Regions from separate parts of the Homo sapiens genome. Here region 1 is linked to region 2. The links come from fine-mapping of genetic effects on plasma protein levels. A gene starts in region 2. The other region holds a variant in brackets. All regions are shown on one strand. Distances are between the middles of the regions.

Region 1 (9,782 bases), 43 kb after region 2:
TAGCTAGAGATTCAAAAGATACAACATGATAAATAATAAGGTTTTCCCTACCTCTCACCTGTAACACCCAGTTTACCTTCCTGGAGAATAATTGTTTCTGGGTGTGTATCCTTAGTTATTCTGTGACTATATAAACAAATATATTTATAATTATTTTTGTTTCATACAAATGGCAGTATACTATAATATGTTTTTATCCTAAGTTTTCCACTTAACAACAATTTTGGACATCATTCCACGTAGAATATAAACAGCTTCTATGTTTAATTTTATGGCTGTCCAAAAGCTATTGCAGAGACAGCACATATATTTTTTTGACCGATCTCCTGTGTAATGGATTTTTAATTTAATTTACTTCCAATCTTTTATTAATACAAACAGTCCTGAGGTAAATAACTATATACATTCTATGCACATCATTTCATGCATGTGATCATTCCTGGAAGTGGAATTGTTGGATTAGGGAGGAGATGTGTTTGCAATTTTAATTGATATAGATTTGGCCAAGATCCTAAATAGATATAGATGCGGGACCTGGATGTTGGGTTTGATTATCCTTTACAGGCTCTCCATAGTGACGGTGGGTATCTTTAGAGAAAGCTCACCATTTTTGCATTTTACCTCTACTATTCCTCCTCTAGGAGAAATAGTGTATTTTTTCCTTTTTTGGAAGCCTTCATTACAATTCTCTTTCTAAGACTTGGAATTTCCATGTTGCCAAAGAGGAGAATAGTTACTTTATAGTTTCTCTGGTACAGCACTCAGAATTCTGTAACTTGGCCTTACTGCTTAACCTGCCGGTGCTGGGATCCTCATGTGTAAAATGGAAATGTTCATGACTCTTCTTCCTGAGATAAAATTTTGTTCATTTCATCAAACACTCAGTACATTCTTATTCCTCCATGATGCCTTCTTCACTCGCTAACCACTTGATGTCAGTTTCTGAACATCTCTATACTCCCTGGATTAATGATTCTGTTTTATCTATAAACTCAAATAAACCAGAGCTTGGAAAAGCGTATCAGAGTTCAAATTATGCAGCATACGGGATTAGCAACAGCCTTAGGCAAGAATTCAACCTCAAACCCTGTGAATTATTGTAACACTAACCC[G/A]TTTGTCCATAATCCTCAGGTCTCTAGGGCTGTACTCTCTGGCTTAGCAGCCACTTAACCGCATGTGGCCACTGAGCACATGAGCTGTGGCTAGAGGAACAAATCATCTTCTGTGGCTGCCCCAGGGAACTCCCCTTCATTTCACTCAAGTTGGTTGTTTTCATGCTTTCAAATATGTTTAAAGTTCATCATTTCAGTTTTTGAAGGACAGCATTGGCTGATACTATTTTCAATTTCCTAGGTAGCAAAATTAAAATAACCCACCAGAGGGCTCCAAAGCTGTACTAAGCTTGCTTTCTTTTTCTTTTTCTTCTTTTTTTTTTTGTAACCACTGGAAGTGCACAGAATCTAAATTGTATTGAGGGAATAGAATTTTTTTAAATATGCATTTTTTATTACAATTGTACAGCATTTGAGCCTCATGACTGAGTAGTTACTTGTATGACTGCAGGGCACAAAATCCTGGGCTTAAACAATGATGTTTCAGATACTCTCCACCTTTAAGGGAAGATACGACCAATTCATCAAAGGAATAGTGAAGAAAGGTACCCTATAACGAACATATACTAAGACAGCCATTTGAAAACATTTAATATGAGCTTAAATAATATATACGTTCACTTTCATTTGGCAATATAGTCCCCTTCTAAGCAAAACATGTTGCCAAATTACTGTTTGAAATAGTATCTCTAGAATAGTAATAACAAGCAGCCATATATCAACTATAACTTCAATTCTTTTTCTCTTCCAATACTCAATACGCTTATATGTACCAGGCCCTGTGCCAGGCTCAAGGCAATAGGGATGAATAAACATCTGCCTTCAAATGTCTTTATTGTCACTTTCCCCTAGCTCATTACTATTAAATTTTTGCAGCGTATAATCAAGATTATACAATTTGATCCTATTAGTAGCGAGGCTGAGGATGTTGACAGCTGGTTTAATTAAATAATGATTGTGTGGTGCTTGTGATTTACAAGCACACTCTCTCTATTCTTTTCTAGTTCAGAAGAACATGGGGTGGGTGGTTTGATATTAGTGTTAGTACTAATCTCATTTAAAAATTTTCACCTATATGGGTACTCCTTTTCATGTGATGTGACTTGCCGAAGATCACACAACTTACCGCAAATTCAGGTTTTAGGAGTTATGACTCCAGATCCCTCTCCTAGTCACAAGCACGTGTCAGTTTTGGGTAGCAACTAAATGGTAGTGGGTCTGTTCTGAGGCAACAAGTGGCTGACTCATGTGGCTATGGTGGCGGAGGCTCCTTGGAGACCGTTTGTCCCCCAGCCATTCCAGCTCTCTACTTCAACACTAACCTGCCTCTCAAGAGTGACTGGCTCCCTAATGTCCATAGAATAAAGTAAATTCAAATCTTTTAGGGGATGTGTTTAGTCCCCCAAAGCTTTCAGGCCTCCAGCATTTAAACAGTGCATAACAGATGCTTAGTTCAGGTTTGCTGACAAGATTTAGATAATCTAATATGTATTAGTATAGTCTTGTTGTAGATATAACTTTTTAAAAAGAGATTTCCCATAGCCAAGTACAGTGGCTTATGCCCTGTAGTAGCAGCTACTTAGGAGGCTGAGGCAGGAGGACTGCTTGAGCCCAGGAGGTTGAGGCTGCAATGAGACATGATCACACCACCGCACTCTGGCCTGGGGAATAGAGGGAGACCTTGTCTCTTAAAAAAAAAAAAAAAAGAAAGAAAGAAAGTTGATAAGGTGATTTCCCATTTGATTAAAAAGTAGGTTATTTTGTTTTGTCTAAAAACCAACAAAATAGTATATGCCTTGTCTATTTTTGGTGAATATGTATGCTGCGAAAATAAAAACTAAATGTTACCTTTATTTGCCTAGTAACTATAAGCTGTTTCATGTATTATATAAAATGATTAAAATATTGTTATAGTTTTAATCAAATCTTTTAAAATTTTTTTCCGACCCCCCTTTTTGTTTCTAGAAAGTGATGTGCCTACTCACTGTCCTAGTCAGTGGTGGCCGTATGCCGGTCACTGTTACAAGATTCACAGAGATGAGAAAAAAATCCAGAGGGATGCTCTGACCACCTGCAGGAAGGAAGGCGGTGACCTCACAAGTATCCACACCATCGAGGAATTGGACTTTATTATCTCCCAGCTAGGATATGGTGAGAAACTTGACAGTGATAATATACTTGGCTTTAATCCTGGGAGCACCCCTTTCTACCCAACTCTGGAAAATTCTATCATAAACATCAAATTTAATCAATGTAAATCAATAATTCAACGAACAACGTATGAATTTAATCACAAATGCTGAAAATGCCACAATGTGAAAATTGTATAATAATTGAAAGAATTCTTATCACTGAAAGATAATTCAATTTCTTTTTCTTTTAATGTGTAATCCATTTATGGGTAGTTTTAAAACATTATTTTTTTCATGCATTATCTGGATGCAGAGCAGTCTACCTTACACTTGTGAACAATGCTTAATTCCTTGGAATTATCTGTGTGTGTGTGTGTATCTTCTTTTTTTAGGTCCATATTTTATCTCCTAAAAAAGATTTCTAAATGGACTGTTTCAGACTTTAGATTTCTTTTTTCTTTGTGAATTTAGCTGATGCTGGGAGGGTGTTGAACAGTGAAAAATATAGGAGTTTTTTTTTTTTTGAAATGGTTAGATGTCAGCCTAAACCTTTTAAAGGAATATATTTCTTGGCCAAGCTACGGTGGCTCATGCCTGTAATCCCACCACTTTGGGAGGCCAAGGTGGGAAGGATAGCTTGAGCCCAGGAGTTTGAGGCCAGTCCAGGGAACATAGCAAGACCTCGTCTCTACTAAAAAAAATTTTTTTTAAAGAAATGTATGTCTCAATTTTAGGTGCATAATTAAAAATACACAGAAAATGTACTAAGCAGAAAAAAATAGATGAATAAAATGAGCTGGGAATGCTTGTCCCGAAGATGAGCGGCTTGAGAAACAGCATAATGATAATGGGCACTCAGCAGTGCTTGTTGATTAAATGATGATCATTTTCATCTTCCACTGATGAGGCTGCTGAATAGCTGCAGCTGCTCTTCATTTCCCCCCAGCAAAACAAGAGGAAATGGATGGTGGAGATGGTGGAGACAGCTTCCTGACACATAGTGCCTGGAAACTGATTGGGGCTGGGGGAGGGGAGGAAAAAGCAACTAACAAATAGATGAGAAACAAATAGAGTAGTAGCAGAAAAAGACTTAAAAGTCCCCGAAACACTCCTACTTCTAGCACCTGCCAAATGGTATCCATCTTCCTGTGTTGACCCCATTGAGTGTCTTAGGCCACGAGAATAGCCCAGCTGCAGCCTATGAACAATTTCTTGGTTATTCTGTGTCTACTTATCCTGGAAAATTCACAATAGAAGATAATAATGGAATCAGAACTGGTATGTCTGAATAACAATTACTTAAATTTAGTGTGGCACTTATAGCCAGTAAAGTTTGCAAATGATTTAGCAGAAAACAGGTTAGTTAGGATGCTCTAGAACTGGAGTGCACATTTAACTCTACTTTGTATAACATAATGTAGTGAAAGAAAAAAACCTGATATTTTTATTGCTATAATTATTTTAGGAAATTGGATGGCCAAAGTTGCTTTGAAATTCAGCATGAGAATTAGTAAATAAATTAGAAAACCTTCCATTAAAAATTATTGATAAGATTTTATTTTAAACAATAAAATAATATTAATAAAAGTAAAGTTGTAAAGTTAAAATTATTGTTTCTAAACAAAAACCTAGAAATTTTTTTTTACATAATTGAGATGATACCTTTTGTATTAATCATGGAAGTATATTTCAAGTGGACACATTAAGACCTATACACGTAAGTTATGATTATACCAATGAATACAACTTCCCCAACTAATTGATAAAAATCAGCATGACAACTTTACACTCACATCTTATATATTTTTCTAGGATCAAGATTGTGCTTAGGAATTGAAGAAGCTATGGGGGAGAACAATTTAGTGAGAAATATGTATATAGGAAACTCTTAACTGTGGGACTTAGGAGGTTAGTTTTTCTTTGATCTTCAATTTAAATCTTTGAGGGGTACATGAGGTCACTTTGAAGCCTGCATTTGTTGCTGAAAAGATCACGATCTGCAAATCAAGTGAAAGGAGAAGAGGATCATCCTGGCAGTGTCATTCATTCTCCACGGCACTGGAAACATCTGCCAGTGCTGGCGCCAGGCCAGCTAGAGACTTCTCCAAAAGCAAAGTTGAATGACAACTTTCAGGAGGAAGAGACTAAACCGCTTAGGGAGAATCTTATACATTGTGATGTTTTCCTCATTTTCTACCACAACATCATCTTTACAATACTTTGGCAACTAATTTTATTATACCACTAAATGATCATACATCAAGCATTCATGATGGGACTCCCAGTCGTGTGAATTAGATAGATATTGATTTGTGTATTCTTTAACTTTTTTTAATTTAGACAAGTTTATTTTTTAGCCATGACATCTTAAACCTTCATTGACTTTAACTTTATCCCATTTTTGTTGTGATATTTAGGAATTTTTAGCATGGCACCTACTTATAAAATCAATAATGTTCTCCATAGAATTTCAAAACAAAATGATCATGTTTTAAATCTATATTGGTTGTTTTCGTTTTACCCTCATTTGTTATTTAAGTTTTGCTGGAATTTCCTGGCATTTCATGATGAAAATGATTACAGATTCATTTGTATATACAGCATAATAGATAGGTACCAAATGTCAGGTGCAAGTCTCACCTCTTGGTTTATAATTCTTTCACTATATAGATAATTTTCACTCCCAGTACAGTGATTGATCTTTAACGGAAGTATCTAGAATGTTCTTGATAACAAGAGTCAGTAAAATAGAAGCAGTTTAAAATTTTTGTTATTTGAAAACATTCATCAATTTAATCATAGTCAAACAGATGTATATAAATAGGCTACCATCAATAACATGAGTGCAGTTGGCATGGTAAATTATTTGCAACAATAAAAGCAGCTTCATAAGATAGAGCATAGTAATAGACCTACCTCAATTTTGTTTTTGTAACTGCCAGGAGATACAATCTACAATATTTCCACTAAAGAATACAGTCATATTCACAATGTAAAGGGTACACTACACAGCCTAAAACTAACAAGGTAAAATGTAGTTGGCATCTAAGTCGACAGCATGTAGGTCAGATGAGCACTCATGAGGACTATCTTTCATGATGGTGATCATATCAAGGGAGGTAGAGCCCTGTTGATAAAGCAGAGTGCCTTCCGTTCCTTTTACCCCCCGACCTTTGGAAAGCAACCCTTGTATATACCACTGTGTGTTTCTTCCTGTTTAGAGCCAAATGACGAATTGTGGATCGGCTTAAATGACATTAAGATTCAAATGTACTTTGAGTGGAGTGATGGGACCCCTGTAACGTTTACCAAATGGCTTCGTGGAGAACCAAGCCATGAAAACAACAGACAGGAGGATTGTGTGGTGATGAAAGGCAAGGTAAGGCCACTTGAATGACTGATATTTATAATGAAAGTCACGGGGGATTTTTCCTTCTGTCCCAGTCAGTTACATATGTTTGTTTAGATTGTTTTTATTCTACATAAATTGGCATGGATCAAAGGTGAACCAAAATTCAGATTTGATTTCTTGAATCCCTCTCAACTGTCTAGCAAAGTCAAATTTTCAAGAGGATCACTGAAGCAATGGACAGAAACTTTTGGGTCAAGGATGAAATTCGCCTGTAATGAATACTCATATTGTTTCTATGGCACTATATATGTACATGGCCATATATATAGTGCCATATTATAATGGTGTATATATATATCCACCAAAGCTCTCATCTGACCAATTAAGCCATATATATGATTATGCATGTATATATAAAAAGTTATTATAAGCCATATATATGATTACAAGAGATGTAAAAAGAGATATATATGTATGTGTGTGTGTGTGTGTGTGTGTGTGTGTATATATATATATATGTAAAAAGAGATTGTAGCCCCGTATATATGTGAGAGATATATATACACCAAGTAGATGCAGATCTACTTACAGCTACGGTGGATTAGGTCTGGAAGCTGTACTTGGGGAGCTACATTCATTTTTTTCAGTTTACATGGAGCTGTCATATGAAATGATTGCTTTTATGATTGAAATATGACCTCAGTGATTGAAAAATGTTATCAAATTTATCTTTTATTAATAGATGGTAAACACAGTGATTAAGAGGCTGAGTTTTGCTGTGTGACTGACTCCTTTATTTGCAAAATGGGAATAAGAGCTGTACTTAGCTCACCTGTGGATATGAGGTTTTTTTTTTTGTTGTTGTTGTTGTTTGTTTGTTTGTTTTTTAAGACAGAGTCTTGCTCTGTCACCCAGGCTGCAGTGCAGTGGTGCAATCTCAGCTCATTGCAGTCTTGACCTCCTGGGTTCAGGCCTCCCAAATAGCTGTGACTAAAGGTGCGTGCCACCACGCCTGGCTAATTTTTTGTATTTTTGGTACAGATGGAGTTTTGCCATGTTGCCCAAGCTAGTCTTGAACTCCTAAGCTCAAGCGATCTGCCTGCCTCAGCCTCCCAAAGTGTTGAGGTTACAGGCGTGAGCCACTGTGCCAGGCCCAGGATATGAGTATTAAATAATGCATGTGTGGTACACAGTTCCCAGCCCATATTTATTGTTCAATAATTTTTGTCATTGTGGTTGTTTATTTTTGTCACTGTGGCTGTTATTTTTGTCATTGTGGTTGTTTTTATTGTGATGGATTGAAAGTTTAAGAACATATTAGGTGTTAACTATCCAAAGAGTAGACAGAAGAAACCAGAAAGCAGCATGCTTGGAGGAGGTGAAAGGTCAGTGTGGTTGAAATCATGAAGTCAGAGCCGGAAGGGTGGGTAGGAACTGAGGTTCAAGAAACATGAGTTGTCTCGGAGGGGTAAAACCAAAGTGGCAATTTATAAATGTTACTCTGGCTAAAGGCTTACGTGTCAGATTGCACTGGGCTGAGACCAACTAGGATATGAGGAGTTAAAGACAGACAATACAGAAAACATTTTATTTATTTATTTATTTATTGAGACAGAGTTTTGCTCTTGCTGCCCAGGCTGGAGTGCAATGGCACAATCTTGGCTCAATGCAACCTCTGCCTCGAGAGTTCAAGCGATTCTCCTGCCTCAGCCTCCCGAGTAGCTGAGATTACAAGCGTGCACCACCACATCCAGCTAACTTTTTTGTATTATTAGTAGAGACAGGGTTTCACCATGTTGGCCCGGCTAGTCTTGAACTCCTGACCTCAGGTGATCCACCCGCCTTGGCCTCCCAAAGTGCTGGGATTATAGGCGTGAGCCGCCGCGCTTGGCCCAGAAAACATTTTTTTCAAGATGTTTAGCAGCGAAGGGAAGGAAAGGAGAGGTCCTTTTAACATGAAATCTCAAAGGAAAAGAGAGGGGATAGAATCTGAAATAAAGTGGAAGGTTGAGCCTCAGATCCAGGGGAGCACTCATCAGTAGAAATAGGAAGAAGGCAGAAAAGATGACTGTGGTTTCATGATGCTTTCAAGTTGGTGTGTTGGGTGCAGGAGATTTTTCTGGATGGCGTATATGAACTTGATTAATTTGAAGACAGAGCTGACTGCAGGGATTGATGAAGACGCTGCATGCGGCCGGGCCCAGTGGCTCACGCCTGTGATCCCAGCACTTTGGGAGGCCGAGGCAGGCGGATCATGAGGTCGGGAGATCGAGACCATCCTGGCTAACACGGTGAAACCCCGTCTCTACTAAAAATATAAAAAATTAGCAGGGCGTGGTGGCAGGCGCCTGTAGTCCCAGCTACTCAGGAGGCTGAGGCAGGAAAATGGTGTGAACCTGGGAGGTGGAGCTTGCAGTGAGCCAAGATCAGAGCCACTGCACTCCAGCCTGGGCAACAGAGCGAGACTCCGTCTCAAAAAAAAAAAAAAAAAAAAAAAAAAGAGGCTGCATGCAAACCTCTTGCGAGCACCGTCATCCAAGGACTTACAGACATTTTTAATTTCTCCCTGGATTCCTCTAAACAATGGCTTGGACATCTCAGATATAAAATCATATTGCGGCTCCAATCACTTTTTACATGTTTGTAGCTAGAGTCAAAATTACTGTTTACATATGAACATGTCAATTACCTTTCCTTTCAGTAGATGCCGTTTTCTCTCAATAACCTTGGATCTTAATTTTCCTCCTCTGAGGCACAGTTACAAGAAAATAACATCAAAGTCCAAAATTGGCCGGGCGCAGTGGCTCATGCCTGTAATCCCAGCACTTTGGGAGGCCAAGGTGGGTGGATCGCCTGAGGTCAGGAGTTCAAGACCAGCCTGGCCAACATGGTGAAACCCCATCTCTACTAAAAATACAAAAAATTAGCAGAGCTTGGTGGTGGGTTCCTGTAATCCTAGCTACTAGGGGGGCTGAGGCAGGAGAATCACTTGAACCTGGGAGGCAGAGGTTGCCATGAGCCAAGATCGCGCCACTGCACTCCAGCCTGGGGGACAGAGTGAGACACTGTCTCAAAAAAAAAAAAAAAAAAAAGGTCCCCAAACTGATAATCCTTTATTTTTTTCTCTCTCTCTGCTCCCTGCAGGATGGGTACTGGGCAGATCGGGGCTGTGAGTGGCCTCTTGGC
Region 2 (9,885 bases):
GCAAAATGTTGAAAGGTTGTACATATAGCAGGTATCAGGATTCCTTTTTACGGCTCTATAATATCCCACTGTATGTTCATACCACATTTGTTTATCTGCTAACAGACACCTGAGTTGCTTCTACTTTTTGGCTATCATAAGTAAAACTTCTTTGAACATTGTTGTACAAATATGTGTTTGAGTCCCTAATTTCAGTTCTTCTGGGTATATACCTAGAAGTAGAATTGCTGGATCGTATGATAATTATAGTGTAACTTTGTGAGGCATTGCCAAGCTGTTTTCCGCAGTGGCTACACCATTTTACATTCCCGCCAGCAATGCCCGAGGGTTCCAATTTCTCATATTCTCACCATCACTTGTTATTTTCTGTTTTTTTAAAGTAATAATTCTTTTGGGTGTGAAATTCTATTTCATTGTAGTTTTGATTTACATTTCCCTAATGACTAATGATGTTGAGCATCTTTACATGTGCTTAGCTTATTGGCCACTTGTATATCTTCTTTGGAGAATTATCTGTTCAGGTCCACCGACCATTTTGTATTTGGTTTTGTTGTGGTTATTGAGTTGTAGTTGTTAATATATTCTGGATATTCATCCCTTAATCAGATATGTGATTTACAGATATTTTCTATTTTGTGCTGTCTTTTCACTTTCTAGATAGTGTACTTTGGTGGACACAGTTTTTAACTGTGATAAAGGCCTTTTTATCTACTTTTTTATTGCTTGTGTTTTTGGTATCCAATCCAAGAAATCATTGTCAAATCCAATGTTGTGAAGATTTTATTTCCTGACGTTTTCTTCTAAGAGTTTTATAGTTTTTAGCTCTTATGTTTAGGCATTTGATCCACTTTGGGTTAATTTTTGTATTTAATGTAAGGTAAGAGTCCAATTTCATTCTCTTTCCTGTGGATGGCCAGTTTTCCCAGCACAAATGCTGTTCTTTCCTCATTGAATGCTTTTGGCACCTTGTTGGAAATCAACTGCCCACATAGGTTTATTTCTGGCCTCTCTATTGTATTCCATTGGCCTATATGGCTATCCTTATGCCTGTACCACACTGTTTAGATTACTGTCATTTTGTAGTATGATTTGAAATCAGGAAGTGTGAATCGTTCAACTTCATTCTTTTTCAAAATTGTTTTGGCTGTGCAGACTCCCATGAAATTCCATATGAACTTTAGGATGGGGTTTTTCATTTCTGCAAAAAAAAAAAATCATTGGGATTTTGATAGGGATTGCATGAATCTATAGATTATATTGGATAATATTGACATCTTAACAATATCAAGTCTTCCATTTCATGAACACAGGGTATCTTTTCATTTATTTAGGTCTTTTTCTTTCAGCAACCATTTGTAGTTTTCAGTGGACAAGTCTTTTGTCTACGTAGTTAAATTTATTCCTAAGTATTTTGTTCTTTTTGATTCTATTGCAAATGGAATTTTCTTAATTTTATTTTCAGATTGTTCATTACAAGTGTATCAAAATTCAACTGATTTTTGTGTTTTGATTTTGTGTCCTGCAACTTTGTTAAATTTGTTAGTGCTACAGTTTGTGTGTGTGGTGTGTATGTGTGTGTGTGTGGCGTGTGTATGTATGTGTGTGTGGTGTGTGTGTGTGGTGTGTATGTGTCTATTGTGTATGTGTATGTGGTATTTGTGTGTGGTGTGTGTGTGTGTGTGTGTGTGTAAGCTTTAGGACTTCCTACATTTAAAATCAGGCCATCTGTGTACAGAGATAATTTCACTTCTTCCTTTTTAATTTGGATGCTTTTATTTATTTTTTTCTTTCCTACATGCTCTTATTAGAACTTCCAGTACTAAGTTGAAGAGAAGTGATGAAAGCAAATAAAAGCACCAATCAGAACACACAGTCCTGACATTTGGAGGGCTAAATCCTTGTTGCCCGGCCTGGCCTCACCTAGCTGCACTGGGCGTGTGGGCTGCTTCCCCCTTCACAGCTGCCTGACACAGCCATAACCACAGGGAGAAGCTGAAATTCGCTGAAATGTACCAGCCTCTTTATCAAGCTCTCCCTTGGATGCTCCAAGTTTCTGACTAGACTAGTTCCCAAATACAGATGGTCCTTGACTTAGGATTGTTAGACATAATGATTTACCCACTTTATGATGATGTGAAATAGAAATGGTGCATTCAGTAGAAAATGTATTTCGAATACCCATACACCCATTCTGCTTCTCACTTTTAGTACCATATCCAATAAATTACGAGATACTCAACACTGTATTATAAAATAGGTTTTGTTAGATGATTTTGAAATAGAAGAGTTCCCTTATGACCCTCGCAGGGGGTGCGACAGGAATGAGGCTTGCTCCTTTGGTGCCCTGCTGCTCAAACCCCTAGGGGGGAGCATGCAGCATGCAGATGGGCAGGTGCAGAGGCTGTGGGGAGTGCTTTTGGGCTCCACCCCACGGCAGCATCTAGGACTCCTGAAGCCCAAGTGGGCGTGTGTTACAGTGTGCTCTTTCAGCTATACCATCTGCAGACAGCTTGTGTTAGTCAGCTCAATAGACCCTCTGCCTTATCACAAGGACAGGGAGGCAGTGTGACAGCCTGAGTTCTTGCCCAGTGTACTGGAAGAATCAGATCACATGTGGGCTGGAGGGTTGAGTGCAAGGTTTTATTGAGTGGTGTAGGTGGCTCTCAGCGAGATGGATGGGGAACTGGAAGTGGGGAGTGGAGTGGGAAGGTGGTCTTCCCCTGGAGCCAGGCTGCCTAACCCCCCAGACTATTCTCCAACCACTGCTGGCCAAACTCCCCTTGGTGTCCAGATGTCCTTCTTCTCTCTTTCTCTGCTGCGCCACCCCACTGCTCTCCACTGCTCTATTCCTTCACTCTTCTCAATGTTTAGCGCTTGTGTCTATGCCCATTAAGGTCTCAGGTTTTTATGGGCACAGGATGCGGGGTGTGGTGAATCATAGTGGTCTTGGAAATGTAACATTTGCGCATGAAAACAGGAGTGCCTGTTCCCACTTAGGTCCGTGGGCACAGGTCCGAGGGTGGAGCCCTCGCCAGGGATCCTGCCCTTCTCTACCTAGCACTTCTCTGCCTCCTGTCCCTATCAATTTTGCCCAGTTGGAAGCTAATGTAAGTGTTCTCAACACGTTTAAGGTAGGCTACGCTGAGCCGTGATGTTTGGTAGGTCAGGTGTATTAAGTGCATTTTTGACTTAGCATATTTCAACTCACATTGGGTTTAACAGGGCCTAATTTGATCATGAGTAGAGGAGCACCTGCAGTTACTTCAGTCAGTTCCTGTCCATTTGATGGCTGCTTAGATGGAGGGATGAATTCCTGGAGTTTCCCACACCACCATCTTCTGTGACATCCCTTCCCCAAGATTTGGATTTATTTTTTGCCCCAGTGGCCTCTTGTAGCCTGATAAATCTTTGTTTCAACGAGGTCAAGGTCATGGGGTAAATTCTTTGTGGGGTGGTTGGCTGCATTTTGTTTAAACTTCACAGATTTTAGTACTGATCCTAATTTTTAATTTTACTAATGTGATATACACACTTATGTAATTAAAAAACAAACCCTGGGCCAGGTATGGTGGCACACGTCTGTAATCCCAGCACTTTCAGAGGCCAAGGCGGGCGGATCACTTGAGGTCAGGGGTTTGAGACCAGCCTGGCCAACATGGTGAAACCCCGTCTATACTAAAAATGCAAAAAATAGCTGGGCATCATGGCACGCGCCTGTAATCCCAGCCACTTGGGAGGCTGAGGTAGGAGAATCGCTTGAACCCGGGAGGTGGAGGTTGCAGTGAGCCCAGATTGCACCACTGCACTCCAGCCTGGGCGACAGAGCAAGACTCTGTCTCAAAGAAACAAACCAACCCTGAATGTGATTATATACATAATTCAATTAAATGTATTTGCTTCTGAAATATATATAAATGTAAATTAGGCAGTCACTTTTGTATATGATTTATTTATATTTGAAAGCCACAAATGACCCATTTAAACTATTATTTTCATAAGCCAGTGAAACAATGTCTGAGAAACATTTTTGTTTTGTCTGTTCTGTTCTATAACCATCATTTTTTTTTTCAGTCATGTACAGCCTTAGTGACAAAGAAACTTTGGTCCTCTGTCCTACATTTTCACTATCTTTTTCCCTCCGGTCAGGATAATCTCAAATTTACATGTTAAAAACAATCAGTAAGAGAACTACATCACATTTCTAATAGGATGGAAACTTTTCAACTTTATCACAAAGACAACGAATGTGGAGGCTTTCCGTTTGAAGATAAAACTATTCATTTAAAAAATTTTAAAAATTACAATGTTTCCAGTAGCTTCTTTTTGAATTACTAACATATTCCACACTCTAGTAACGGTTTGGCCAGCTAATCGTTAGTTTCTGCTTTAAAATGTTCTAAATTCCTGTTCTACTTTTGAAAAATGACAACATAAATGTTTGGAGGGTTATTTTCTGCTTAATGAAAGATCTAGAAACATATTTTATTCTAAGAAAGAATTCCACTTGCCTTTAAATAAAGATATACCTTTTGACCAAACAATCAGATTTTCTTTTTCTTTTTTTTCTTTTCTTTTTTTTTTTTGAGATGGAGTTTCGCGTCTGTCGCCCAGGCTGGAGTGTAGTGGTGCGATCCTGACTCACTGTAACTTCCACTTCCCAGGTTCAAACGATTCTGTTGCCTCAGCCTCCTGAGTAGCTGGGCTTACAGGTGTGCATGATCACACCCGGCTAACTTTTGTATTTTTAGTAGAGACGGGTTTTTGCCATGTTGACCAGGCTGGTTTCAAACTCCTGACCTCGGGTGATCTGACTGCCTCGGCCTCCCAAACTGCTGGGATTGCAGGCGTGAGCCATTGTGCCTGGCCAGATTTTCTTTTTCTAGCAAGGGGACCCACTTAAACTTGAAGAGGACCGGGATGGTTGAGGCTGGGCAGCAAGGCTTTACTGCAAATCCTTTACCACTGTTTTTTCTGGCTTTCTAGAGAACGTTCTAGCAAAAGGTTTCTAGAACTTTCTCCTTCCTGGCCTGACTGACATTCCCTCTTAGGTGTAGCCTCCTTTTCACTTTTCTTCTGCCTGGAGGAAATGAAGCTCCACGGAACTTTCTGTTGAAACTTTCCAAGAAAAAAAAGAAAGGCTCTAAGCACTGAATGTGGAAACTGAAGGGGATGAGCTTCAACTCTGAAGTGTTTCCAGCGTAAAACTGTCCTTTCCAGGGCCCGTGTGGCTGTCACTTCAGAGTGGAGGTTGTCTGCTGAGGGACCCCTGACTCAGCTGCTTCCCAGGGGAAGCTCCGTCTTCCGGCACAGGTAATGGCCTGCAGCTTGATCTCCACCCAGCCCCATCTGAGCAGGCCGGGAGCTCCCAGGCTGTTTCACTTCTCTCCTTCCTGACTCCTCACCATCACCATCGCCCTCTCTCCTCCCCACCCCGCCACTCCTCTCCCACACGTGTCCCTTTCTCCCCTTCCTCTGCGTCTGCTCTTCTCAGAAGTTAGCTTACGAAGCAAAGTTGTTACTTTGAATTCCTGTTTTTCCAGCCACCCTCATGTGACAGGATGTCTCCTCAGTAGAGGCTTTCCCTAAATTCAGGAGCCCTTTAAAAGGGAGGGCTTCCTCTGTAGTTCTTTTCAGCTGGGCAGCTCTGGGAACTTGGATTAGGTGGAGAGGCAGTTGGGGGGCCTCGTTGTTTTGCGTCTTAGTTCCGCCCTCCTGTCCATCAGGAGAAGGAAAGGATAAACCCTGGGCCATGAGGCTACCCCTGCTCCTGGTTTTTGCCTCTGTCATTCCGGGTGCTGTTCTCCTACTGGGTAAGTCTGCTCTGAGGCAGGGGATCTCTGACCTGGGGGGCCGGAACCACACCTTCCTCTTCTGGGTTACTGTGAATGGGTTCCTTTCAACATCTTTGTGAGGAGGAAACGGGGTTCCCCTGCACCACGCAGTCCACGGCTAAGCCTGCTGCCTTCACCTGGCGGCCAGGCATGGGAGGCCTGGAGTTGGAGGAGGGAGGAGGATGCGTCTCAGGTCTCGGTTGCTGCCCTGCCGGGAACCCTACAGACCTTCAGTGTCCTCCTGACTTCTCTCATCGCTCGTTGTTCCTTCCCTGTTTTCTTCGTGCAGAAATTTCCTGCTCTGTGGTTTACTCTTTCTGGTTTTCAATTCACACTATTTCTGTCTCACCGCCAACAAACACCTTCTGAGTGTCTCTGGCTGGAAGGAGGGCAGCCCTGATGTCTCCCCGCGTCTTAGGTCCGAGGGTATCATCGCAGATCATCCCCCCAAAAGAGATTCTAAGCAATTTCCATACTCATTTTTTTTTCTGCCAGAATCATTCAGACACTTGATTGTTAGAAAGTTCATCCTTATCTGTATTCTAGACTATTCAAACTGCCGCATAAGCAGATCGATTCCTGTTTTTCTTCTTTTTCTGGAGATTAGAGATTACTCATTAGGAACAGCTCCAGAGTTGTTCAAATTCTCAAATACCTTTTCCAGTCTGTCTTTTCTATTTCTCTATACTCAGTTGCTTAAACTTCAGGATGGGAGTGCCTCGGGGGATTTTCATTCCTGGTTCTATTTGGAGATGATTTAGAAGAGATTTCAAATTTGATTTTTTGATTTCTGATCCCCCTTTAATTCTATGAAATCAACAAACACTTGCAGAGAATGGTTTGTGCCTACGATCTACTCTATGCACTGATGTGAAGGCGGGTGGGAAGTTTCCTAGGAAGAGAGTGTTTTAGTACCGCAAATGTTAAATCATAAGTATTGAGTGGTAGTGATTACAAAAACACAAGTGAAGGCGGTATGGTTTACATCCTGTCTCTCTCACTCACTAGCTTTGCGACCTTGGGCAGGCTACTTTATTTCTTTGTGCTTTAGTTTCCATGTCTATAAAATGGAAAGAATAATATTACCTGCCCCCATCAGTTCTTGTGATGATTCAATGAGTAACAATATGTGAAATGTTTAGAACAGAGTATGACCCATAGTAAGTGCCTTATAAGTGTTAGCTATTAAAATCAGTGGCAGAAAAGAAGTACATAAAAGGCCAAATAAAAAGGATAGATGAAATTAATTTTATTTTTATTTTTGAGACAGATTCTCATTTTGTTGCCCAGGCTGCAGTGCAGTGGCATGATCTTGGCTCACTGCAACCTCTACTTCCTGGGTTCGAGTGATTCTCCTGCCTCGGCCTCCCAAGTAGCTGGGATTACAGGCATGCACCACCATGCCCAGCTGATTTTTGTAGTTTTAGTAGAGACAACGTTTCACCATGTTGGCCAGGCTGGCCTCGAACTCCTGACCTCAAGTGATCTGCCCTCCTCAGCCTCCCAAAGTGCTGGGATTATAGGCATGAGCCACAGCGCCCAGCCCTGATATTATTAATGTATTTTATTTCACCCAGTAACTCGGAAATATTATCCCTCAACATTTAATCGATTTGGAATATTTTCCCATTCATTTCTTAAAACTAACTCTTCAAAATCTGGTGAGTATTGCATACTTATAGCATGTCTCAATTCACAGTAGTGTCATTTTAAGTGTACAATGGTTACATGAGGTGACTGGCTATCATACTGGGCAGCACAGACACAGTGCCTAATTTTCTTTAAACTGACTCAATAATGCTTTGAGCAATAGTGTTTCTCGGTTTGCTCAGGAGTGTTTCCCTCTTCCTGACAGCAGGATGCCCTCCTCTGACTAATGTCTTCCTCTTCATAGGCACAAATATTGGGGAGAGAAGGGGGATGCTGAAGATCTGTTTACTTGGAGAATAAACAAACAAAAAATTCAAGGGACCCCCCTTCCAGATTTTTTTTTCCTACGTGAAAGCCTGTAATTTGTGTTGTTTTGTTTTTTGAGACTGGTTTCACTCTGTCACCCAGGCTGGAGTGCAGTGGTGTGATCATGGCTCACTGCAGCCTTGACATCTGGGCTCATGCAATCCTCCCACCTTGGCCCACTCCCAACTCCCCAGTAGCTGGGACTTTGGGCTTGAGCCACTATGCCAGGCTAATTTTTAATTTTTTTTATTTTTTTTTATTTTTGTAGAGATGGGGTCTCACTATCTTGCTCAGGCCGATCTCAAACTTCTGGGCTCTGGTGATCCTCCCACTTTGGCCTCCCATAGTGCAGGATGATAGATGTGAGCCACTGCACCCAGCCTGTAACTTTTATTTTATCTTTTCTTGGCCCGAGAAGCATGTGATTGGAGGAATTTGTGTAAAGGCAGGGCACCTGCTTAGTTAGCAGCAGGTTAAACTATGCGAAGCCCCAACACCTCTCCCCTGGCTTCCTGCCCACTAGGAAAACCCATGGGAAGGTCTCCCTACTTGCCATCAGTTTATTTCTTTTCAATCCACACCCCTTCCTTCCACCTTCAGGAGAGCATCCCACAGCATTAGCACCATAAGTCTCTGTGGGCTGCTGCCAACGGATGGGCTGGTTCTCCCTGGAGGGGTCCAGGAGTCTAGAGGTTAACAGGGCTAGACGCTCACCTTTCCTACTGTTGTTCTTGCCGCACTATCTTTTTAGCACTCAGCAGCAAGGTTTCCAGCTCAGTTGGGTTATAATCATGGTAGATGCACCATGAGAGCCGGTGGGACACAGAGGTTAGACCACAGCAAAGAAGTTTAACTTGGAAATGGGAGGGTTTGGCTCACAGGTAGTGGTGTATTGGCAAACAACTACTGGTTCCAAGAAGGAAAAGAAAGGAAGCACTGATTTGACTTATGCTGTTTTGCTGTTTACTGATGTCCATGCTGTAAATATTCCCACCATGGTTGATTTCAAGCTACTGACTTGATGCCCCTGGGGGCAGAGTTGGGAAGAGATGCCAACAGTAGGCTTTTTTTTTTTTTTTTTTTTTTGAGATGGAGTCTCTCTCTGTCACCCAGCCTTGAGTGCAATGGTGTGATCTTGGCTCACTGCAACCTCTGCCTCGTGGGTTCAAGCAATTCTCCTGCCTCAGCCTCCCGAGTAGCTGGGATTACAGGCACCCGCCACCACACCCGGCTAATTTTTTCTATTTTTAGTAGAGATGGGGTTTCACCATGTTGGCCAGGCTGGTCTTGAACTCCTGACCTCGTGATCTGCCCACCTTAGCCTCCCAAAGTGCTGACATTACAGGCATGAGCCACCACACCTGGCCAACAATAGGCTCTTGCTAGCTGCTGCTATTGGTCCCAGGGCAATATGGAGCCTTTCTAGGCTCTGGGAAGGCGCTCAAACAGTGGGTCAGGTAGTATCATGAAAAGCCTAGAACATCTGCAAAAAATGATAATGAGAGACGTCTTGGTGGACAGAGAAGCCTTAGAATCATAGACCATTAAAGCAAGAACAAACTAGGAAATGATGCATTTTGACATCATCATTTTATAGATGAAGCACCAGGCTCAGGGAGGTAAAATGTCCAGAAGGTGACTGTTTAGCAGGTAGATGTAGATCCAGGACTTTGCTCAACGGCTTGTACTTTTCCACATCCCCTTAGATTTCTTGCTGCGCTGTTAGATCAAGTAAGTGCAAATTAGGTTATTCCTGTTGCCATTTGCGGGTCTCACATTTGGCTGGAAGGGATCCAACTGTGGTTCTGACATAGACATCACGCTAATGGTATAATCCTGATACTCCTCTATTTCATTTCCCTCGTTGAAATGCTAAGAAAGATAATTATTATCATGTGATTATCACAGTAGTGGTTTTTCACAAGCACTCTTGAAAACTTTGATTCCAATATAAATGTATGTCTTATGGTAAATATTGATTCTTCAGTGTATTTTTTCACAAAACTGAATTAAGTGGGAGAAAAATACAAGCACCTTTCTCCTTTTTAAATTTGTTCTCCATCTTTCTCAGTGTTTGTATCTAGAAGGCTGAGCTAAC

Direction of the effects. Alleles are on the strand shown, and positions count from the first base shown. The strength of an association depends on the size of the effect and on how common the allele is.
As copies of A replace G in region 1, the plasma level of the protein whose gene starts at base 5,632 in region 2 goes up (moderate association).

What was found. PIP is the posterior inclusion probability: the model's chance that the variant is causal. The UK Biobank Pharma Proteomics Project read protein levels with antibody pairs (Olink). The fine-mapping took linkage between variants from a reference panel, not from the people measured, so its PIPs are less certain.
Region 1: its variant is fine-mapped to the plasma level of the MRC1 protein (UK Biobank, PIP above 0.99).

What each region holds. Positions count from the first base shown.
Region 1 is chr10:17,846,502-17,856,283 of GRCh38, forward strand. It overlaps MRC1 (mannose receptor C-type 1), which reads left to right. Exons shown (of 30, transcript NM_002438.4): 7 at 3,078-3,263; 8 at 6,466-6,623; 9 at 9,741-9,782. Among named protein-coding and RNA genes, the nearest start is that of MIR511, 6.3 kb to the left of the region's middle. The variant G/A (reference allele first, on the strand shown) is at 1,113.
Region 2 is chr10:17,803,717-17,813,601 of GRCh38, forward strand. MRC1 (mannose receptor C-type 1) reads left to right here and starts at 5,632. Exons shown (of 30, transcript NM_002438.4): 1 at 5,632-5,810. The coding sequence starts at 5,750.